Regions from separate parts of the Homo sapiens genome. Here region 2 is linked to region 1. The links come from fine-mapping of genetic effects on gene expression. Tissue or cell type: lung. Region 1 holds a variant in brackets; the other region holds the start of a gene. All regions are shown on one strand. Distances are from middle to middle.

Region 1 (8,106 bases):
AGTTGTTTTTCCTGTCTCGGACAAAGCATCCTGTCTCCTATAGTACTGCAACAGATTGAATCCAGAAGCCGATAGAAAAAACCCACTGTCATCTGTCGAGCAATGTATTAAAGAGATCTATCTGCAAAATTGTAAAAAGATGCTGTTCTTCTCACCAAATGTTTTTGTTTTGGAAAATATGGTTATGTTTTATAAAAAGATATGACTTATGAAATAGAATTGTTGTTTTTAAATACATAAAAAATATTTCAATAATTTATCAGTTTTACTTTCTAGTATATTAGATATCGGTAGATGTAAGCAACATGCACAAAAACTCTTCGGGGGTCCTCAAAAATGTTTCAGAGTGGAAAGGAGTCCTGAGGGTGAAATGGTTGAGAAGTGCTGGTCTAAAACTCCCCAACCCAGTCAAATCTGGCTTCTGCCCATATCAGTTCACTGAACCTATTTGCTCCAAGGACACCAAATTCAAGGGCAAGTCCTTACTAGACTTCTGGGAATCATTCACACTGTTCTTGACCGTTCTTCTGGAAATGCTTTTCCTCTGACTTACAGGAGTCCAGAGAGGAACACCATGTACACTACTGGTGTTCTTCCTACCTCCCTGGCTCCTCCTCCTTTATCTCCTTCATGGGCTTTTCTTCCTCTGCCTAACCTTAAAGGTTAACGACCTGTGGGGCCCTCACCTCCTCCCACACTCCATGCTTCTTTGTTTTCCGTTACCGTCTTTAGGCTGGTGACAGCTGTGTTCAGCCCAGATCTTTCTGCCAATCTTCATACCTAAATACTGAGCAGCTTGCTGGGACACCTCTACCTGCCTATTCCACCAGCACCTATAATTTAACACGCCCTGAACTTATCATGTCACCATCACGCCTGCTCCTTCATCTCTATTCTCATGGCCCACACTCTGTCTAGTTGCCCATACCAGAAGTTTGGAAACCATTCTTGACTCTTTCCTTTGTCTTAAACCCTCACTGTCTTTCACAATATCCAAGCAATCTCCAAGCTCTGTGTCATCAGTGTCCTGAATCCTCAAAACAATCTGCTGTTCTCTAACTTCTAACACTGTCCCACCCGGGCCTCCATTGTCTCTACTAATGGCAGTAGTCTCCTAACTGGCTCTTTTCTAGCCTGTTTTCCACTGTGCCACCAGGGTCATCCTTCCAAGGCACAGAGCTCATCAATTCACTATTTCTTCAAGGCCCTGAAACACTTGTCCCCTCCACCTCTCACCTCACTTGCTGCATCTCTCATCACCTGCCCTCCCTCGGCATTCTGTGCTGGCTCCAAGGGCTTCCATGCTGCCATGGGCTCTCCCCTTCAGCCCCTCACACATGCTGATCCTTCATCCTTCATCCTGGGCCACCATCCCTGCCCCATCCCCATTTACACCTTCTTACCCTGAACACAGGCAGTGCTGACTAACTCAACACCGGTCGTTGATATTCAAGTTTAGATTTCTGACACACATCTAGCCTTCTGTAACACCCTATGTGTGCTCTGTGATGGCGTTTGTCAATCCACACATGTAACCGCATGTTTGATGTGACCTTCAGAAGGGCAGCAGCCTTGTCTCTCTTACATGTCATAGAATCCTCACAGCATCCTTTTCCAGCTCCATCACTTAACCACAATCTCTCCGTACCTATTTGTCGAATGAGGAAATTCGTATTTCTTTTCAATTTATCTTTCACTTTAAAGGTGAGCAGATTTACTGATTTTCCTTTGTCAAACAATCACAGGTGGCTTGAGCACAGAAAGGCAGTGATTTCAGTGCTTACAAAAATATAGCATTTATAGGTGTTCGAAGACATGGATATAATTTCACCTACTGCCTGCATGAAAGACTATCTGCGTCCTGATTGGCAATGGGAGTTGGCAACACATTGACCAGGTTAAGTCTTCTATCTATATATGAGGAGGGTGGGGTGTGAGGAATTGACATCTGATCAAAAGTTATTGTCCTAAGAAGTATGTCACCAAAAGTAATTCCATTTTTTTATGTCAAATGTGACCTTTACTTATAAAAACCCTAATGACAAAATAATCCTTTTTAGAAAACTGTTTTGTCACATCTGTGAGACAATGTAACTACAGAAGTTACCACAACACATATGTTCTAATCAAATAATATTGGTAGGTTAGGCTTCCATGCTCACGTCTCAAAAACTAAAATATTTGCAATGGAGGTAAAAGGCTTTTTCTATCTTTTTCATAAAAAGGCTTAATTTAAGGCCTGATGTGGAGGTTTAAGCCTGTAATCCCAGCACTTTGGGAGGTCAAGGCAGGAGGATCGCTTGAGTCCAGGAGTTTGAGACCAGACTGGACAACAAAGGAAGACCCCGTCTCTACACAAAGTATAAAAAATTAGCTGAGCATGGTGGTGTGTGCCTGTGGTCCCAGCTACCCCAGGAGGCTGAGGTGGGAGGATTGCTTGAGCCTCTGGGAGTTCCAAGCTGCAGTGAGCTATGACTGGGCCACTATACTTCAGCCTGGGTGACAGACAGAGACCCTATCTCAAAGAAAAAAAAAAAAAAAAAAAAGCTGGGGGGGCAGGGGCTGAATTTCTAGTTGATCACATAAGGAGACCAGTGAGATGTAAACCTAGGCAGTGTCCCAAAGCTGTTCCGGTTCTTGCCTTGGATATCTTCTTGCTGTCCATTCTTACTCCCTTTATTATGTTCTTCCCTCTTGCCCTTCTCTCACCAGACCTTCATTTCCACAAACACTTAGGAAGTAAAAAAGTCTAACATGTTTGAATCCTTGAAAACAGGGTGTAAAACATTTTGGTATGTAAAACATTTTTGGTATGTAAAACATTTCCTTTCCGGTATTATCATTTAATGTGTTTAATCATGAATTATAAGTGAGTATGGCTTTGGGGCGTGCTTCTTTTGAAAAGAAAAGGGCACATGATCACCACCTCCTGTGTCTCTTATCTGGTACATTTCCCTTGAAGGACTCAGCTCATTATCTGGCAAAGACGACCATGGTCTACAAGTCAGTTGGGTTCAACAAATGCTTATTAGCCATCTTCTAGAAACAGATATCGTGTAGGACGCTAGAGACAGGCTGTAGGCTTTGATATTTGGGGTTTGAAACCTGAATAGGGAGCGTCTTCCTCTTATTACATTCACTTTATTCAATCCTATTCATCTGAAAAATGGGGAACATAGGTATTATTTCAAATAGCTGTTCAAACAATCCTAGTTTATTCATCTGAAAAATTGGGGAAATTTTCAGATGAATAAACTAGGATCGTTTGAAAGGCTGTTTGAAGAATTCAATGAGATAATGCAAATAAGGTACCCAGCTCGGTGCCTGGTACCCAGGAGAAACTGGATAAGTAATGGCTTTCAGAATGATTACAGAGGATGAGGAAAGCTCTCCAGGATTCCACAGTGAGCTAGAAAGCGGTCTTCATTTTTGTAAGAAGTGAAACATA[T/C]AGGAGAAACAAATGTGAAAATACATTTTTATAAAAGTGGGAAATAGTTAGTCAATTCCACTCTGAAAGTAACCCTCTTGCTTTTTGGTTTAATCTGTTATAGATGAAGGGGATTAACTGCCAAGAGACTTGAACAACACACAGGTTTTTTTTGGTTCTTCATGCTTGCACCTGTTAAAAGGCAGAAGAGGTCCAAAAATGGGAAAGATGTGACTTTTTTGTGGAGGCTCATGTTTACTAGAGGGAGAGAAGGGCAGTAGACCGCATATGTCATGTTTGTTCAAACTGAGCTGAGAATTTGAGGGGAAAGGGTTTTCTTGACAGCTGGGTATTTCATATCCTGCCTGTGGAAACTCAGTAGGTTTCCAAGAGCAAAGTCTAGAGGCTATAACCTTGTGCTCCTGATGTCCTTGTGTGAAAGGATTATTTTCTGGCTTTGGAAGAGCAAAACACCTCTTAAAAATTCCGGCTCCTGAAGTGTTGTTGCAGTGAGCCGAACCAAGATCGCGCCACTACACGCCAGCCTGGGTGAGAGAGTGAGACGCCGTCTAAAATAAATAAATAAATAAATAAAAAATAAAAAACAAAAATTTCCCACTCCCGAAATCTGTTGGTACATGATTTCATTCTGAATAAGGTCATGGGGTCCAGTTGGCAGTAATCAAACATTGTTCAAAACTTGACCCTAAATCGTAGTTCCTCCCAAAGGTCTTGGAAAAATAGGAGATTAGGTTTTAAAGGGAAGGAAAACAAATGAGTGCTTCTCCTTAATTATGCTTTTGGCTGCCACTGTGGGGATTATGAGCTTTAAGCTTCTAAGCTTCCACCTTTTTGATATATTTCCTGTTACTGTATTATTGTTGCCCAAGTGAGGGTGGGGGTGCAGAAAGGTTTGCAAGGGAAAAATAACCTCATCAATGTAACTGAAATTCCTTTCTCTGCAATTCAGTGGCTGACTTTATTGTTATTGTACTTTTGAAAGATTTGTACAGTTGTCTTTCAATTGCATAACATTGTTTTTCATTTATGGAGCTAATTGCCTGCTAGTTACTGATGCTCTTTAACCTTATGCATTGAACTTTTACTCATTTTGAAATTAGATAAACTTCATGCAATGATGTTAGCATGTGGGGACTGCTGACAAAGCCCAATAAAGCTTTCTGTGCCCAATAATCTCAAATCACACACTACTGGATGGCTTAGGCTTGTCAGCAGATACTAACAAATACCACCATGTTGTCTTATACTGTTAAGTATAAAACAAGAAAAGAAAAAAGGAACAAAAAAAACAGAAAAGAACAAGAAGCTTTCAAAATAAAACATATCATGCCCTTTTGAGTTTAAGGGGCCATCTCGGGTTTTTAATTACTTGTTACTAGTAGCATGGCATTTTGTACATTTGCACAAAAGGACCGAAACTTGTCATTGTGAAGAAATGATGGGCAGTATCTATCTTGGGTATGGTTACCGGTCATAGAGTAGTTCTACTTTGAGCTTGCCATACGACCCTTGTCATTTCTTTTCAGATTGATTTTTCCTGCCCCATGTTAACTATCCAGCTAAAGACACCCTTCCTTTGAAGAACATCTGCAATGAAGGCTTTACTTAGTCACTGTAATTCTAGTTCTATTGATTTCATTTTCTGTTGTCACTTTTTGTATATAATATGCTATTCCTTGAATAGTAGGACTTCATTTTAAGACTTTTTTCATATTTCTCAAGAAGCTCTAGAAAGAACTTTTTCAAAAAATATTTCTCTTGGCACAAAAGAGTCTATAAAATATGATCTTAAATGGTAAAACTGAAATCTCTAGAGCAGTGCTTATCAAACTTTAATGAGCATAATTGTGACCTGGGGATCTTGTTAAAATACAGACTCTGATCAGATAGATCGAGGGTGGGACCCGGGCTTCTGCTTTCTGTTGGTCAAGGGACCACATTCTGATTAGCGAGGTTCAAGGCCTATCTGAAGTTCAGACTTCAACTTAGACTTACTGCCTATGCAACCACTGACCGTGTATCTCCCAAATGCTCCGGTCTCTCCATTTGGGAAATAATTATGCCATTTACCACATCATGAAAATATATGACAGCTTTCAACATTTTTTAATAATCTGAAAGTTTTCTGAGCATCCCTGTTCACCAGTGGCACATGAATTACAAATAAAGATTATAATTTCAGAATCTTGTGTACTGGGGCAAAGGCAATGCTACTTCTATAATGCGTTTGCTTTGTCAAAGACGAGCCTTACTCTAAATCCCTCAGTAATTCAGTTTTTTTTCCCCCAAGGGATATTTTCTGTAGGTTGAATATGAAAAACCCTTCTTTAAAAAATATTCCTAAACAGCTTTAATTATTTGTACCGAATTAGTCACTTTTCCTGACATGATTCAGGAAGACAAAATAAGTAAGTAGAGTGTTGCCTTCTTCACAAGACAGACATACCTACTGAGCTTATACTCGTGCTTAATTTTTTTTCTGTGCCTTTATTTTGTTAGGCCACATTTCTCAAAGAAGTGCCACCTTCCTCCTGTTTAGTCTTTTTGCTTTGTGTTCCATCATGTTCTTCTATCTGCTTGTCAGAACAATTTTGAAAGTTATCAGAAATTGCCAGCCAACCAGAGTTGTATTTCTTGTTCCCTTCTCTTCATTGTCAGTGGAAACAAAACAAAAATTATGTGTAAAAGGGTGCTGTCTCTTGTTTTTCCTAGAGCTCTGGGCCTACTAAACCTTGTTCCCTGTCACTATTGAGGGAATCTGCAAGCATTACATTATAGATACAAAGTAAACTTGTTTTATAGAGATTAACATTGGAATCTAAGAGAATTCCCTGATAAGATAACAGCTGGTATATTTCTTATGTCTCATGCATTGGTTCTCAACCGGGGGTATTTTGAGACACTTGGCAATGTCTGGAGACATTTTGGTTGTCACAGCTGAGGGTGGGTAGGGGCTACTGACATCCTGTGGGTTGAGGCCAGAGATGTTGCTAAACATCCTACAATGCATGCGGCAACTCCCCGCAAGAAAGAATGATCCAGTCCTAAATTTCTAGAGTGAGAAGGTCTTGAGAAACCTTGATGTGCTGTTACTCAATACAGTCTTGATTGCTTAGTGTGGTTGTTTTACTCTGTCTTTACTATTCTTAAATTCTACTGGACTTTATTTTGTTTTGATGCATGAGGGTGTTAGCCACGTAATTCCCATTAGAGTGATGAGAATTGTGTATGTAAATACTCTTCGGCAATGCAGTTGGACTCTCATGAGGATTTGATGATATCTTTTGTATAGGTAATTTTGTATGCTTTCAACAGCAGGTGATTTTCCATATATACTAAACCATTAAAAATTCTAGAAAGTTATTTTTCAAATCATGAATGTCTTATGACTGTTACTTGAGCAAATTTATTTTAAAATACATTTTGACAATAACTATCTCTTGAGGAAGACTGGGATTCCCAGACTAGAGGGATTGATCCCTCTTTCTGGAAGAAATATGGAGTAGTTTTCAGTCAGAGTATTTTAATGTGGCTTCAGGAGAGACACATTATAGAAACAAGATAGTAACCCCTCTTGAATTGCACTGATCCTGATTGCCTGTGAAGAAGATGGTTGATCTCTGCACCATCTTAGTACAGAGATCAGTGGCCCTCAAATCTTCTACTTTCAGGGCTAAGAGGGGCCTGAGGGATGGTTGAGAGCAGTCCCCTAACCTTAGAGATGAGTATTCGCAGTTGGAAACTGATTATTCATGGAATGGGAAAGAGATTATACAAAGAAAAGACTGGGTCCTGAAATCAGTGACCCAGTTTGAGCTAATGTAGACAATCTTGTTTTGCATAAGGCCTTGTTATTCTTTCTCATCAGGGCTGCTAACCTGAAGAAGGAAGTCTGCATGCCGCCCACCTTTCTCTACCCTTAATAGACCTTAAGCCACCCCCAAACAAAACAAACAAAAACACCACAGAACAGGGAAAATGGAAGGAGTAATAAAGTAACCTGATCTGCCCTTCCATAATCACAGAAGGATGCTTGCTCATGAAGAACACTCCTATCAGTCCGATGGTTAATTTCACCTCCTCCAGAAGCCATCTCTTAGCTTCTACTCTTCTAGCATGCACTCAAATCTTGACTTGGAAATAAAACGCCCTCCATCTGATCTCTATTTTTTGAGGCTTCTAGCTGTAGTTTTTTTTTGTTTTTTTTTAACTGGATTAGAATCCTGGCTCTATTACTAGCTGTGTGACCTCAGGGAAATTACATAAATTCTCTGTACCTAATCTCTGAAAACGAGTATCATAGGAGTCCTTACACTGTAGATAGGATGGTGAGAATTAGCTAAATTGATATATGTGAAGTGCTTAGGACAAGGTTTGGTACATTGTAAGCATAATGTAAAACATTAGTTATCGTTATGATGTATATACATACTCACTTATATTTGAACACCTTAGAACTTAATTTTGTTTCGATGCAAAGGATAATTAATTGGTTGCTGAAATCCCTCCTCCAGTACTTTATCACCGCATATTTAAGAATGTTCTGTCTCTTTAGTACAAAATTTTACATTCATAATGAGTTCTTTTTCTCCCCCAGTTCCATCCTCATCTCACTCTCTCAGGGAAAAAAACAGTCTACCAATCAGAATTGGGCTAGC
Region 2 (8,105 bases), 290 kb before region 1:
CCTCCTTATAGAAGTCTTCCTGAACCACTGAATAACAAATAGCCACCTAGCCACTCCCTTTCCATCAGAAGAATTTTAATTCTCTGCACATTGCTATCTGCTATTTTCTTGTTCACTACAATTTCTGATTTTGTTGTTTATCATCTACCTCCTCTTCATAAGTTCTATGAGAACAGAAACTTGCCTTGTTGCCTAGTCTATTTCCCAGTGCCTACAGTGGTGCCTGGTACATGGGAGACACTCCATAAATATTTGCTGATTGAATGGATACCTTGCTGTTATTTATTTACTTCTGTTTTCAGGACTGAGACCAGATGGTCGAGATGCTTCAGTCCAGCTGAGAAATGCTTGGGGCTCTCTCTATTGTAACTTGCAGCGAAAGAACCCTCAGCTGCCAACCTATATGGAACATCTGGCCCAATAGCAGATTCCTAACACCAGCTTTAGATAAGGCCTTAAGAATGATGAAGCTCCTCACACTTCCCCCTGAGAATCCCCCGGGGCATAAAAAATGCTACAGCCTAGGGCTTTAGTAACTGCCCAGGCAACAAAGTGTTTGATTTTTAGGCAAAAGTGCCTACCTCTGATTAATCCAAGCGAATGTTGGGCCTCCTAAATAGTCATCTTACAGGCTGAAACTTTTCCTACCAGTACTGCCAAGGCTGCAGACAGCTGTGGAAATCCTTCTAGAGCTAATATTCATGTGCCTCAACTCATATGTAGCCAACTGTAAACTGGTGCCAACTTCAAGTGCTCATTTTGTGTAAGGTAAAGATGTATTATTTCCATTTTACAGCTGAGGAAACTGAGTCTCAGAGAAGTTATAGGACTTGCTCTGGATCTGGTGACCCTGAGTCTTTTATTCATGAGTACTTTCAACAGTGTTTGAAAGTGTGTCTGGTTTTCAGAAATGACCAAATGTCACTTGAACCTAAGTAAAGCAAATTAAGTAGATTCTCAAGGTTGGATAATACAGTTTCCAACTAGTAAATCCCTACAAGATCCAGAAGGGGCCTTAGAGATCATCCAGGTTAATAAGAAAACTTCAGAAAACCACATATGTACTCAGGATCCCACTTTTTTGGCTTTTATTTGTTTTAGGCAGATCTAGTTCATGCTAGACAAACCTATCCTAACCTCTGCAGCACACACCTGGCACAGAGAGGGGACAGAGCTGAGAGACCAACTACTCCAATCTCTGCCCTTCTGCCAAGATGGCTTAAAGATATAAACACTCTGTGTTAGCATGTTTCAAGGGAGCAGCTTTTTCCATTGTTGTATTAATGAGAAACAAAGGAGGAGGGGTGGAATCTCTTTGCTTTAGAAAACAATATCAATCCATTAGAAAACATACTAGATAATTACTATATGAGAGGTGTGTAAAGACCTGTAGAAGTCAGTCATTTCCCTTGGTAGCTATTATGCTGTGGAGAGATGGCATCTGCATCATTCATAACCGTAGCGCACAAATTGGCACAGGGAGAAGGCCAACAGCAAGCTGTTCCAGGTAGACCAGATGTCTCCAAGGGAGGCTGTCTCTCTAGAAGTAAACACAATGTCTATTTCCTGTCACTTTCACTGTTGAATAATTAGATATTTGGTATCTGGAATAATTATTGATAAATAGGGTAATCCTTTTAAAAAGAGCATCCCAACTGTTCTCTTCTCAGAAGGAAGCACTTTTTCAAAACACATTCTCCAAAGGCACTGTTTTATCCCCTTTTCCCAATCACGAGCTGGTCTTGTGCTGCCAGATGTTGACTCAGAGATGAGGGAACGTGTCGGTGGCCACTCTTTTGGGGGAAAGGTAGAAAAGGTGAAGGGGGAAAATAACTGGAGAATGTAAGAAGGCCTTTGTTGCCATCATTAACAGTCAGTCCAAAGGAGGTTGAAGGATGCTGGGGAAGTGGATGGGTGGGGAAAGAGACAGATGTAAGCCACGAAGTCATACACAGATCAGTACTCACTGGGGATGCTTGGCCAGCTTTGGTTTGGCTGTGAATCCAATGGGCATATGATTTGTTCGTTCAACAAATATTTCTTAAGTTCTTTCTACATCTGGGGAAGTGGTCTAGGCATTTGAGATCCATCAGTGAAAAACAAAAGCAAAACAAAACAAAGATCCCAGCCCTTGTGGAGCTCCAGTGGGAGATTCAGACCAAAAAAAAAAAAAAGAAATCCTAAAGATAAAAATAAATTATATAGTGTGCTAGTGGGTGATAAATGCTATGGAAACAAGAAAAAAGAATAAAACAGTTAATAGGGACTCGGAGTCCAGGGTGTGAGAACCTTTTGCAATTTTAAATTGGCTTTCTAGAGGGGGCATTTTGGAAGTGGTATTGGTGCATACATTTGACAGGGTGGAGAAGCCGGCCATGCAGATATCCCAGGAAAGAGCATTCCAGGCTGAGGGAACAACCATTGCAAAGAGCCTAAGGTGGGAAGATTACCTGTAGAGTTTGAAGGATAGCAAGAAGTCCAGAATTGCTGGAGCCCAGTGAGTGTATGTGTGTGAGAGAGGAGGGGCTCGGGGTAGGGGATGAGGAGGGACAGAGAAAAACGGGAGAGGGAAGTGGGCAGTAATAGTTGAGGTAAGAAAGATCAAAGGATACGGGATCTAGGGTCCTGTTGGCCCTTGCAGGAGCGCAACTTTAGCTTGACGGACAATGGGGAGCTTTTACATATTTTAGATCAGACAAGTAGCCTTATGTGATCTACGTTAAAACACACACACACACACACACACACACACACACACATACACACACACAAAACATCTTTTTGTCTGGTATGTTGAGAATAGATTATGGCATAAAAATAAAAGATTTCTAAATATATTGCCTTATATGAAAAGGTTGCGATGAGACTCCAATGCAAAAAAAAGCTTTAAAAATTATAAAGCACAGTGCAGACCCAAACTATAATTATTTTACAAACAATAGAGTTCAAAAGCCAAGGTCCCTCTCGCCCCTTCCGATCCTTGAGTAGTAACTGCGTTCATGCAATTAAACTAGCCTGTTTAATAGAAGCTGCAGGAAAACTGATAACTATGTATTCAAAAACATGTAATTTTATGCCTGAGTTTTAAGTCATTTAGATTTTGCAGATTGCTATTTATTTTATGTTCAGTTTTTGAAATAAATGCTTAAAAAAAACGCTTTAGTACTAGGCTTGAATACTGAAGACTTTAAATATAACAACAGACCAGGAGAGGAGCAGAAGTGTGGGAACTTTAAACCTATTTCTTTCTTAATCCCCTCGGAGAGCTAGACTGGAACACTGGCTGGATCTTCCAACATTTCTGGGGGTGCTCTCTGTTCTTTGCGGTGGCCCTGCCGCCAGGTGAACGCTGCCGGTGGGAGAGCACACACTTAGTGCGGCCAGCTGACCTTCACAGTCTGGGGGGAAATTTTAAAGGATTGTGGAGAAGAGGCCTTGAGACTTCAAGAGGAAGAAGAAAAAGGGGCCCAATGAAGCCTGAGCCTCCCAGGAGGTAGAACTGAGTTAATGAACAGGGCTGATTATCCAAGGTAATTATGTAAAAGAGAAGGCTAGGAGGAGTTCTAGATGGCTGCAACTTGGAGTTTACTCTGCCTAAGGTGAGTGTTTATGTTTCTGTGTTTTTGCTTCTCCGGCAAGGTTTTGTTTTGTTTTGTTTTTTTCTTCCCTGTTCCCTTCACCCAAGGCTCAGTGTGCAAAAGCAGCTCGCTCTGCGTGGCAGACCCCATTCTAATCCTTCTCTTTCCTTAGATTCTGAGCCCGGTTAGAATTAGCCTCCGCATCACGGGCTCCTGGGACCCTCCGCTCTATGCTCCTCGAGGAGGGAGCAGCTGTGTTCATCCCCCTACCCGCAAATGCCTCCGGTTCTTATTTGGCAGACACTCCCGCGGTGCTGCTGTCCAAAGACACACCTTCCCAGCCAGCCCAGTGGTCACGTCTCGCCCCAGCGATTCGGGAGAAGCAGTGGGAACTCTGAGCTCCCCGAATCGAGCCCGCTGCGCCTGGCATCTCCCTTCCCTTCCCCTTGACAAACGACCCAACCTCAATCATCCCTGCTCCTTCCGAACGCTAGTTTTGTTTACGGAGCAAACCGAGGCTTTGAGCAACCTGCGGTTGCACGGCTCTCCTTCGGCTTGGGGAGGGAGGGGTAGCGTTCACAGTTCTCCAGTGTGCCATAGACTGTTAGACCAGATCCTTCAGATCTAGAGGCACACGCAGTGGGTGACAGGAGAGTGCCCCCTCCCCCCGGGCGGGTGGGGGTGGGGAGAGGAGCAGGGACTCGGCTTGGAGAAGGAGGCAGGGAGGCAGCTGCAGTGCTGCGAGGGGTGCGTGCGCGTGTGCCCAGCTCGCCTGCCGTCTCCCGGCTCCGTCTGCGCTCCTCGGTGCGTGGGGCACGAGGGTCCGAGGGCCGGGAAGCCAGAGCAGCGCCTCTCGCCCAGGCCTCGCTTTCTCTGGACGCCCGGCAGTCCCCGGGGCTAGAGCGCACGGGGCGGGGCGCGAGACCCGGGCCGCGCTCCCCGCCCCCGCCTCTTGCGCCCTGCCTGGCTCCCTCTCCATTGAGTTTTCCTGCCTCGGGTGCCTATCAATGGTCCTGCTCGGGGATGCACACGCAGCTCGCGGCCGGAGGGGGGTAGCAGCCGCCGCCTCCAGGTGCAGGTTCTCTCCGGCCGCCGCCGCCACCCGCTGTCGCCGCGACTCGAGCCCCGGGCGCACTGAGGTCTTGGCCATGGGGCTGCGGAGGCTGCTGTTGCTGGCGTGAGAAGGGGCGACGGAGTTGTCGCGCTCGGGGGTCCCCAGCTGCCTGCATGGATGTCTTCAGCTTTGTGAAGATTGCAAAGCTTTCGAGGTAGGGGCTGCGCGGGTTCCGTTTGCACCCAGGGCCGCTGCCGCGGGCAACTTGGTGCCTTATTTTTCGGGAGGCTGGGTAGAGGCAAAAGCTGGAAAGCGCGACGGGGCTTAAGACAAACGAAGTGGCCGGGGGCTTCCACGTTCAACTTATTTCTCACTGGCTGCTGAGGCTTGTGTAGCGGCGGGTGTAGACCACACACAGAGAGGTACATACATGCCCTCACCAACACACCGACATTCACGACAGTTTGTTTTCCCTAAGGAAAAGCCCCAGCGGTGTTTGGGGTCCCATGTATAATTCAGGGCTAAGAGAAGATGGTTGTAATTGCTACTGCTAGGGAAACCCAGAAGTGCTTGGAGCTTGGGTGCCTGCCTTCCAAGCTGCAAAGACCAAAAGTGCCGCCTTCCCCCAACTCCTAAATTACACCTCCACACCTCCACAAAGTCAGCTCCTAGATTGACCAGGTGCTCCCAACGGTAACCTAGATGGCGAAGTCATGTAGATAGAAGAGAAAGACTTTCAGCCTTTTTTTTTTTGGGGGGGGGGTAACTATATTCTTAAGCCTCGAAAGATTTAGAAATTTTCTTCTAAGTGGCCATGTTGTTAAAACAGTAGCTAAAACTAAATCATCGATTCAGACATTTTTGGGTAGTACTGATAAAAGAGGAACATTTCCACGCTTGGGCCGCCTAGGTGTTGCCTGGCCAGAGCACTCCTCCAGGTCTTCTGCCCTGCTTATGCTTCCAAAGTCTTCGTTTGAGCCACAGAGTAAGGTTTGTGCTGCTTGCTATGTGGCATTAATTGGGAAGAGCCCAATAGGAGTGGTCTTAGAAAACCATGCCCAACCTTCTCTGCCCCTGGAGCTCTTTATAGCAGCTACCACCAGGACGTAGGAGGTAGACAGTTGGGTTTTTCCAGGATGTAGCTTAAAAACTTACTTGCAATATGGACAGAATAATCCCAGGTTTTCCTTCAGTCCTGAGTGTCAGAGTGAGATGTGTTGATTGCATCAGGCAGGGATGAGCAGCTTCCAATAGTCAGAGGTAGAAACGTATGTTGACTTTGCTTTATTAAATTACATTAGACCACTTCAGAAAGGTTCTGTTTGGATGTTGCCATTCTCTCCGACATCTACAGGTCTTTGTTCTGCCTGCCCATCTCCACCTTCCCTTTCTACTAACATGGGTCAGTCTTCATGCCACTAGCAGATTTCCCCAGGCAGAAAGGCCCAGTGCAGCTTACTCTAAGTAGACTGGAGATACGCAGTTGATGGGTAAATACCTGTGTCTTAGAGCAGCTCAGGAAGAGGTGTTGTCCTGCAGATCAGAAGACTGATGTGTTAAGCAGTGGATGATTGTGGTGTGGCCAATTGTTTGCTTTCAAGCTGATCTCATAGAGGGCCATTGCTTCACACCACTATTCTATTAACTTCCTGCATGCTTCTGCCTAGGGCTAGTTTCTAAACAGCTGTCAAATATTGAACCATGGTTGGGAAGCAGCTGTGTGCAAGTTTAGAGGCTAAGTGGTACCCTCCGTGTGATGGACAGAGATACTGCTAAAGGGAAAGGGAAGTTCAACCAATAGTATAGTTCAAAGTAACCAGGATACTTTTTGGTGGCCTCAGATGCTAAAAACAGTTTAACAAAACATCTAGAGCCTCGATTTAGTCCTTAAACTTAGGAACTTTGGAGAGGACAGTGTCATGTGTCAGTGAAAAGATGTTTCATATTCTTTTTACTAAATTCTAGGATGCCTACATGATATTCACAAATCTGAGTTTTTGCAAAACTCAAGCAAGGCTGTGGGGAGAGTGGTATCTTATTTTAAAGAGAGTTTAAAATTTAGTAAATGAGTGTGAGTTTCACTTTCTATCCTTAATGTGATCCAGTAGAGTGTTTATTCTAAAGACAGAAGGTGCAAATGTTCTGAGCTGATGTGCCGATTAAGAAATCTTCCATCCATAGAATTCTTCTTTTTCTTTAGTGTGAGCCCGAGGATGGTCCCCGTGCTGAGATAGAAGTACCTTTAGAGGGTCATCAGCATGTAAAAACACATGTTTGCAGTTGCTTGTTTCTGCCTTGGGAGGAAGAAAGTCTTGTATGTGTTTTAAACACTGTTACAGAAAGCAAGTTCTTTTCTCAAAGGTGAAGTATGAAAGTGCTTATACTGCAGGATTTTCCTGATTTCAGAATGGATAATCTTCCTAAAGGATTTAGCTTTGATCAGCATGGTTACTTCAGTGCTTAAAATTCTCTTGGTTTAGAGGCAAACACATGTAGTTACCCTGGGTACCTGGCCTTACCTTTGGTTCCTACAAACTTGAGCTTCTAAATGTTAATTCAGAAGGCATATCTTGGAAGTGATATTTGCTTAGTGTCCTATCTGTGAGTAAAGACAGTGTAATTACAGAGAATTCCAAGAGAATATTATTCGACACTGGAATAAATAAACTGCATATTTTGACTTTTTAGAGTGTCTACATTTAACTATTCGTTTCCAGAATCTATACCCTTTTAATCGTGGGAAAAATCAGAATTGACAGTGCCCCTCAATAACCCAGTACCATTAAAAAAAAATTGCTGCCAAGTGTTGGAATTGCTGGTAAGTAGTTGGCACCCTTTACATCATCAGTTAGAGTTATGACCCTTGATTGCATCCTTCGTGGGTGGCACAGTGTGTCATGGTTCTATCTGAAGATGGTTTTTCCCGTTCTTCTAATTTTCTGGTTCTTAAACTGCTTGATAGTTTACATGCAGTTTTACTTCACTGTTTCCTTGGTAACAGTTCTATATTATTTTCCATCCTTGTAGATGAGAGCATTACAGATGATTGCCTTATAAACCAGTAATAGTATAAAAACAGGCATATATTTTTATTGTTACTGCTCTTTGTATTGACTATTTTATTTGTAAAGCAGATGCATTCTTTCAAATGTTTATAGAAGAATGCAGTCCAGTAGAAAAACATATGATTATGCCCCTTTTGCCAGAGGGAGATGATTTGAGATCCAAAACTCATAGGGATGTTATTAAATTGAGTGATATGTTCATAGATTAAGTCCCTGATTTGGCTTCTTTTCTTTAAGCAAAACGGTAGACTTGATGATAATGATTGAGTCCCCACTGTTGATATGATGATTTCTTATAGTAGTAGGTAAATTTGGGGAATGCTTTACTTTGCATTTTCTTATAGTTGCATGGGTTATTTTGTGGTATATAGCAGTGACTAATATCTAATATTAGAATGCTAATTTTCT

The links. PIP is the estimated chance that this variant, and not a neighbour inherited with it, causes the effect.
Region 2: FRMPD4 starts here. The variant in region 1 is fine-mapped to the expression of FRMPD4 in lung (TOPMed, PIP 0.95).

What each region holds. Positions count from the first base shown.
Region 1 is chrX:12,419,240-12,427,345 of GRCh38, forward strand. All of the region lies in intron 1 of FRMPD4 (FERM and PDZ domain containing 4), which reads left to right. Among named protein-coding and RNA genes, the nearest start is that of FRMPD4-AS1, 48 kb to the left of the region's middle. The variant T/C (reference allele first, on the strand shown) is at 3,449.
Region 2 is chrX:12,134,167-12,142,271 of GRCh38, forward strand. It overlaps FRMPD4 (FERM and PDZ domain containing 4), which reads left to right and starts at 4,307. Exons shown (of 17, transcript NM_001368397.1): 1 at 4,307-4,846. The coding sequence starts at 4,806.